Homo sapiens: one gene and its partner. The protein of the gene in region 1 purifies or fractionates together with the protein of each later gene. This does not show direct contact. Each region holds a gene or a part of one and is shown on either strand. Other genes may lie near its edges. The genes, in order: RPRD2 and SPTB.

Region 1 (3,817 bases):
TGGCCAGGCTGGTCTCAAACTCCTGGCCTCCCAAAGTGCTGGGATTATAGGCATGAGCCACCATGCCTGGTGGTCATTATCCTTTTTTTTATTTTAGACAGAATTTCACTCTTGTCGCCCAGGCTGGAGTGCAGTGGCCCAATCTCAGCTCACTGCAACCTCAGCCTCCCAAGTAGCTAGGATTACAGGTGCCCACCACCACATCCAGCTAATTTTTGTATTTTTAGTAGAGACGGAGTTTTGCTATGTTGGCCAGGCTGGTCTCGAACTCCTGACCTCAGGCAGTCCACCCACCTCAGCCTCCCAAAGTGCTAGGATTACAGGCGTGAGCCACTGCGCCCCTCCTATTTTTTTTATATTTATCATCTATGAGCTGACATCTGAAGAATTATAAAATGTGAAAGCTGAAAGAGACTAAGTATTATCTAGTCTAATCCCTTACTTTTCAGGTAAGGAAACTAAGGCTCAGTAAGGTGAAAAGATCTGCTTATGGTCACATACCTATCTGTCTATTCAGTATGAGCCAAGACTGAAGGCCAGATTTCTTGACTGGAGTTCAGTATTCTTTCACCTACACCATGACACCCTAGGGGCTGCATTAGTCCCAGCTTTTAATACAGGTTTATATATGTTGAGTTTTATTAATTTCAGTGTTAACCAAAGCTGAAGACAGTAGGAAGGGTCCATTTATTATCAAAAAATATGGCCAGGTGCAGTTGCTCACGCCTGTAATCCCGGCACTTTGGGAGGCTGAGGCGGGCAGATCACCTAAGGTCAGCAGTTCAAGACCAGCCTGGCCAACCAGGTGAAATAACATCTCTACTAAAAATATGAAAATTAGCCAGGTGTGGTGACACACACCTGTAGTGTGCTGAGATCGCAGTAAGCCGGAATCACGCTACTGCACTCCAGCCTGGACGACAGAGCAAGACTCAGTCCAAAAAAAAAAAAAAAAAAAAAAATTTTTTTATGACGCTTCAAGAACATAGTGAAACCCTGTCTCTACAACGGAATTAAAAATTAGCGCCGGGCGCGGTGGCTCACGCCTGTAATCCCAGCACTTTGGGAGGCTGAGGCAGGCGGATCATGAGTTCAGGAGATCGATACCATCCTGGCTAACACAGTGAAACCCCGACTCTACTAAAAATACAAAAAATTAGCCGGGCGTGGTGGCGGGCACCTGTAGTCTTGGCTACTTGGAAGGCTGAGGCAGGAGAATGGTGTGAACCCAGGAGGTGGAGGTTGCAGTGAGCCAAGATTGCCCCACTACACTCCAGCCTGGGCAAAAGAGCAAGACTCTGTCTCAAAAAAAAAAAAAAAAAAAAAATTAGCTGGGCATAGTGGTGCATGCCTGTAGTTCCAGCTACTCAGGGGGCTAAGGCAGGAGGATCACTTGAGCCCAGGAGTTCAAGGCTGCAGTACGCTGTGGTCACCCCACTGTACTCCAACCTAAGTGATGAGACCCTGCCTCAAAAAAAAAAAAAAAAAAATTTCTGAGACATGAATATATCTTTTTTTGTCCTAATGTTTTATAGAGGCTTCATTATTTATTATTTTATTTATTATTTTATTAGAGTCTTAGATGTAGTATTTTTGTTTTCACCTACCTATAATCTCTCTCATTTGACCCTTTCTGTTCAGCTTTACTAATTATGTTTTGTGCATGACACTGCCTGTTTCTAACCTTTTTTCATAAATCTTTCCTACTCTCTACTCTCTTATGCTCCAGATACCAATGAAATCCTTTTTAAGTACCGTAGTATAATTATGAAATGAATTACAAATACCAGGGCAATATATTCAGTGTAGTGATTTACTCTATATCAGTAGTCTCAACCAAAGGCCTCCAGGGAGGACACTTGGCAATATTTGGAGACCTTTTTAGTTGTCTCAACTGGGGTAATGGTAGGGGTGCTACTGCCTCTAGTGAGTAGAGGCCAGGAGGATGCTCCTAAATATCCTACAATGTGTGAGACAGCCCCAACAATAAAGAATTATCTAGCCCAAAGTGTCAGTAGTGCTGAGGTTGAGAAACCCTGCTCTCTATCAAAGGAGTGGTGTAAAACAGTTTCCTAAACTGTTATGTAAGTGGATCATTCAAGCATATTATAGTGAACTTTGTCTGGAGGTGCAGAAGAATTTTGTTACACAGAACTAAATAGTATTAAGTAATAATCCACAGCCCCTATCTATTGGCATCAGCAATAAAGAATTGATGATGACTGCAGCACATGTTGTACTACTAATATCAGGGACAATTTGAGAGTTTGACATGTTTATGCTTTCTCCCTTTTTATTTTTATTTGTTTGTTTGTTTTTGAGACGGGGACTTGCTCTGTTGCCCAGGCTGGAGTGCAGTGGTGTGATCTCGGCTCACTGCAACCTCTGCCTCTCGGGTTCAAGTGATTCTCTTGCCTCAGCCTCTCGAGTAGCTGGTATTACAGGCTCACACCACCATGCCCGGCTAATTTTTGTATTTTTAGTAGACACGGGGTTTCGCCATGTTGGCCAGGCTGGTCTCGAACTCCTGACCTCACGTGATCCACCTGCCTCGACCTCCCAAAGTGCTGGGATTACAGGTGTGAACCACCGTGCCTGGCCGATGTGAAATTTCTGATGAGGCAAAATTTGAACAGAACTAGGTTCCTTATGGAATGTGGAATTCTCTTTGACTTTTAAAAGGATTGTATCTAGCAAGTTAAATAGATGTATTTCCTCGAAGACTGTTAATGAAATCCCAGAACTTTGTTCTGATTGTGTCATCCACAGCCCTAGGTATTGACAGATTTATAACACAAAAGAGAGACTTCAGGCCCGGTGTGGTGGGTCACACCTGTAATTCCAGCACTTTGGGGACGGGTGGATCACCTGAGGTCAGGAGTTCAAGACCAGCCTGGCCAACAGGGTAAACCTGTCTTTCCAAAAAAAAATACAAAAAAATTAGCTGGGCGTGGTGGCTCACAGCTGTAACCCCAACTACTTGGGAGGCTGAGGTAGGAGAATCGCTTGAACCCGGAAGGCAGAGGTTGCAGTGAGCCAGCCTGGGCGACGAGCAAAACTCTGTCTCAAAAAAAGAGAAACTTCAGTGGGCAAAGGAGCAGAGTATGACTTGTTATGATTAAAGAGCAAACTTTTGGCTGGGCGCAGTGGCTCATGCCTGTAATCCTAACACTTTGGGAGGCCACGATGGGAGGATCACTTGAGGCCAGGAGTTTGAGACCAGCCTGGTCAATATAGCAAAACCCCTATCTCTATTGTTTTTAAGAATTTTTAAAAATAATTAAAAAAAAAAAAGATTGGAGAACAGTAATATTTAGTGGTGAGAGACAATTTTACCTATTACCAGAAATCTGAGTAGTATATCTATCTTAAAAAGATGTTCTTTTGAAGAAGTTATCCCAAAATATCTGAAAAATATGCTGAAATATCTTCTAAAAATCATATTACATTATTATATATCACATTCTAGTGTTTGAGGACTTCTGGGTTTTGTGAGAACAGTGATTACTAAGAATTAAATCAGGCTGGGCATGGTGGCTCACGCCTGTAATCTCAGCACTTTGGGAGGCTGAAGTGGGACAATCACTTGAGCCCAAGATTTTGAGATCAGCCTGCGCAACATGGTGAGACCTTGTCTCTACTAAAAATAAAAAAGTTAGCTGGGCATAGTGATGTACACCTGTGGTCCCAGCTACTCAGGAAGCTAAGGCAGATAAATCTTTTGAGCCCAAGAGGTTGAGGTTACAGTGAGCTATGATCGCACCACTGCACTCCAGCCTGGGTGACAGAGCAAGAGCCTGTCTCTTGAAAAAAAAAA
Region 2 (3,817 bases), on another chromosome or scaffold:
CATCTGGGGAGGAGCTCTCCAGGATTTATTAAATCTCATTTTTAGGAAAGAGCCTTGGAGTCTAGAACTGGCCGCTGAAGTTGTCTTATGTGGGCCTGTAGTGTCAACTACAGCTGGGGTTTCAGTTGATGTTAAATTGTGGTTCTTGGGGGATATGGTAAAATCACAGACTGCACCTTGTCTGTGTCAGGCATGCCTTTTGGACTCTGGTCTCTGGTGCTGTGACATAATTCTAGCTAAGAATTGACCCCAGGGCTGATTCTTCATCAGAGCATCTGTTCCCTCTCACTTAAAGCTTGGAATCAAATTAGATTCTGTCCAGAAAGGGGGCAACAAGTATTCTGAGAGCACTGGAGAGTGTATGCGCACCCCAGATAGCATGTGAATAAACCATCTGTTTGCTGGTGCATGGGTTTCCGAGTGAGAAGCAGCCCCTTCCTGCCCCAAATCCAACAGGTCCACTCGAGGCATGTGGGGAGTGCCAGCAGGCTGCCAAGGGGCTCCATTAGTAACACGCAGGCTGCATCTCCCACGCGGGTGGCACGGGGAGTAAAATCATGAACTTCTCTTAGAGTCTCTTGTGAGACATTAATTTTTGGAACTTGGGTCTGATAAGACAGGCTGCAAAAGTAAGGCAGAACTAGCTGCTTCTTGGGAATGTGCTTTCCCATCTAGCACTGGTTCTGAAGGGAGCTGCCCTGTCCCTGAGTTTGGGGATGAGCCCCTGGGTGTCTGACTGAGCTGCCTGTTTTTCTCCCGGTGGGGCAGGATAACTTTGGGTATGACCTGGCAGCTGTGGAGGCCGCCAAGAAGAAGCATGAGGCCATCGAGACCGACACGGCTGCCTACGAGGAGCGGGTGAGAGCCCTGGAGGACCTGGCTCAGGAGCTGGAGAAAGAGAACTACCATGACCAGAAGCGCATCACGGCCCGCAAGGACAATATACTGCGCCTATGGAGCTACCTGCAGGAGCTGCTGCAGTCCCGGCGCCAGAGGCTCGAGACCACCCTGGCACTGCAGAAGCTCTTCCAGGACATGCTGCACAGCATCGACTGGATGGATGAGATCAAGGTGGGCCCTGGGGGCCGCCCCCGCCATGCCCTGCAGTGCTCACCTTGGGTCTCAGTGGCCCTGCAGTTAGCATAGGCTTCCTTAGACACCTCCCAGCCAGTCATATCTCTGAGTCAAAATAGAGAAACTGAGGCAGCAAAGTGTCTAGCTGCACCTGCCTCTCTGCCTCTTGGTCCACTCTGCTCCAGCAGGTGATACCAGCCCAGGTCCATGGTACCCTGGTGACCGAGAAATCTTGGGTTTGTGGCAGCACCGGTGCCAACCTTCAGGGCCTTGAAGAGACAGACATTAATCAGGAACCTGGAGAATCAAGCTCTTAGTAATTACAATTTGACTCTGGTTAGAATCCAGACCTCCCAGCATGAGGGCAACCTCTCCTCTCTCTCTGCCGCAGTGGGTCTCAGCTGAGGACACACATCAGACTGCCCCTGGAGCTTTGTGAAAATACACATGGCCAGGCCCCAACCCTGAGACCGATGCAGTAGATGAGTGTGGGGCTTGAGCATCTGTAAGATGTTCTATGGATGATGCTGATGGGCACCCCCAGTAGGCACTCTCCCTCTGGAGCTTCTTCCATCCTCAGCAGCAGCCCTTTTCTGGCTGCATTTGGCTCACCCTTGCTCAGATTACTAGAGACATGCCCTTTGCAGGGGTCTCTTCTCCTAATGTGTAGGTCTCTTCACTTCTCCTCATTTCCTTTCTGCTGTTCTCTTTGCCAGGCTCACCTCTTGTCTGCCGAGTTTGGGAAGCACTTGTTGGAGGTTGAAGACCTGCTACAGAAGCACAAGTTGATGGAAGCTGACATCGCCATCCAAGGGGACAAAGTGAAGGCCATCACCGCAGCCACCCTGAAGTTCACCGAGGGGAAAGGTGAGACCAAGTCTGTCTCCCCTTTTGAGGCTTCCAATGCCAGAGCCTCACCTCTGGCCTAACAACCCAACTTGGATAAATCTCCTGGAACCAACTTTAAAGTTCTGTTACTTTCATCAAGTAATGGTCCAAGAAAGAAGCTTGAGGGACCAGCCAAATTCTCTAGAGAGCAGGCAACTGCTTCGGTAACCTATAATCACCAAGGAGGCACCCTCTGTCCTTCATTCTCCTTGCTAGTTCAAGTTATGGCTGAGACAATTTAGGTTTCCAGATTCTTGTTTTAAATAAGAGACCTCACTGCATCTTTCAAGAATGACCTTGAAATTTTTTTAATTAATTTAAAAATAATTTTATGTTGTACATTTCTATTAAGAACTAACCCCACTTTTTATCTTCCTTAACCCTGAAGTTCAGTGGGAAATAATTATAAAGAATCTGTCCACCCTCTGAGCAACTGGGACCCCCCTGCATCCAACCCCAAAGCCCCAGTGACATGGCAGCTTCAGGGTTGTGTAGTTCCAACCTAGCAGCTTATCTGAAGCGTGCCCATAAATGAAGCCCATCCCCCACTTTGTCCTCCTTCCCCCTATTTCTTCCAGGGTACCAGCCTTGTGACCCCCAGGTCATCCAGGACCGCATCAGCCACTTGGAGCAGTGCTTTGAGGAGCTGAGCAACATGGCAGCTGGGCGGAAGGCCCAACTGGAGCAGTCCAAACGACTCTGGAAGTTCTTCTGGGAGATGGATGAGGCTGAGAGCTGGATCAAGGAGAAGGAGCAGATCTATTCTTCCCTGGACTATGGCAAAGACCTGACCAGTGTGCTCATCTTACAGCGCAAGCACAAGGCCTTTGAGGATGAGCTCCGTGGGCTGGATGCTCACCTGGAGCAGATCTTCCAGGAGGCTCATGGCATGGTTGCGCGCAAGCAGTTTGGGCACCCGCAGATCGAGGCCCGCATAAAGGAGGTGTCGGCACAGTGGGACCAGCTGAAGGACCTGGCTGCCTTCTGCAAGAAGAACCTCCAGGATGCTGAGAACTTTTTCCAGTTCCAGGGCGATGCGGATGACCTGAAGGCTTGGCTGCAAGACGCCCACCGGCTGCTCTCTGGTGAAGATGTGGGGCAGGACGAAGGGGCCACGCGGGCCCTGGGGAAAAAGCACAAGGACTTCCTGGAGGAGCTGGAGGAGAGCCGTGGGGTGATGGAGCACCTGGAGCAGCAGGCCCAGGGATTCCCCGAAGAGTTTCGGGATTCCCCAGATGTGACCCATCGGCTGCAGGCCCTGCGGGAGCTCTACCAACAGGTGGTGGCCCAGGCGGACCTGCGTCAGCAGAGGCTGCAGGAAGCCCTGGACCTGTACACGGTGTTCGGGGAGACAGACGCCTGTGAGCTGTGGATGGGAGAGAAGGAGAAGTGGCTGGCCGAGATGGAAATGCCAGACACCCTGGAGGACCTGGAGGTCGTGCAGCACAGGTCAGAGTTAACTCATCTTTTCCTCACGTCCCTGTACCCAGGCCTGGGCACCATCTCCCACCTAGTTTGGTAATAGTCTCTGGATCAGCAAAGGTCTCTTTGAGAGGCCCTGGGATGTCCTTTGTTGCAAAGTCCTGGCATTAGGAGTCATAAGTTCTATTCTGGCTCTGTGGCCTGGGGTACTTCACCCTTTGGGGCCTTGTGTTCCTCAAACAAAGGGAATTTATCTAGTCCAGTTATTCAATTACTTTTCAGCAATAGCAGTCTTTGCTCAGATGAATTGTGTATGGAACCCCCAGGTCACACAGAGGAAAAATGGAGCTACTCTGGAGAAGGAGGTTGAGAGGCCAGGACCCTGCCAGCTCTAGCTTTCTGTGGCAGTCCTTAAGCCAGGAGACTCTGAGGG

What was found.
Region 2: the proteins of RPRD2 (region 1) and SPTB purify together in Homo sapiens (affinity purification with mass spectrometry; one large-scale study listed by BioGRID and IntAct). This does not show direct contact.

The regions. Positions count from the first base shown.
Region 1 is NC_000001.11:150,465,073-150,468,889, forward strand, and holds part of RPRD2 (regulation of nuclear pre-mRNA domain-containing protein 2), read left to right. Parts: intron 1-3,817.
Region 2 is NC_000014.9:64,792,591-64,796,407, reverse strand, and holds part of SPTB (spectrin beta chain, erythrocytic), read left to right. Parts: intron 1-768; coding exon 769-1,071; intron 1,072-1,790; coding exon 1,791-1,941; intron 1,942-2,540; coding exon 2,541-3,411; intron 3,412-3,817.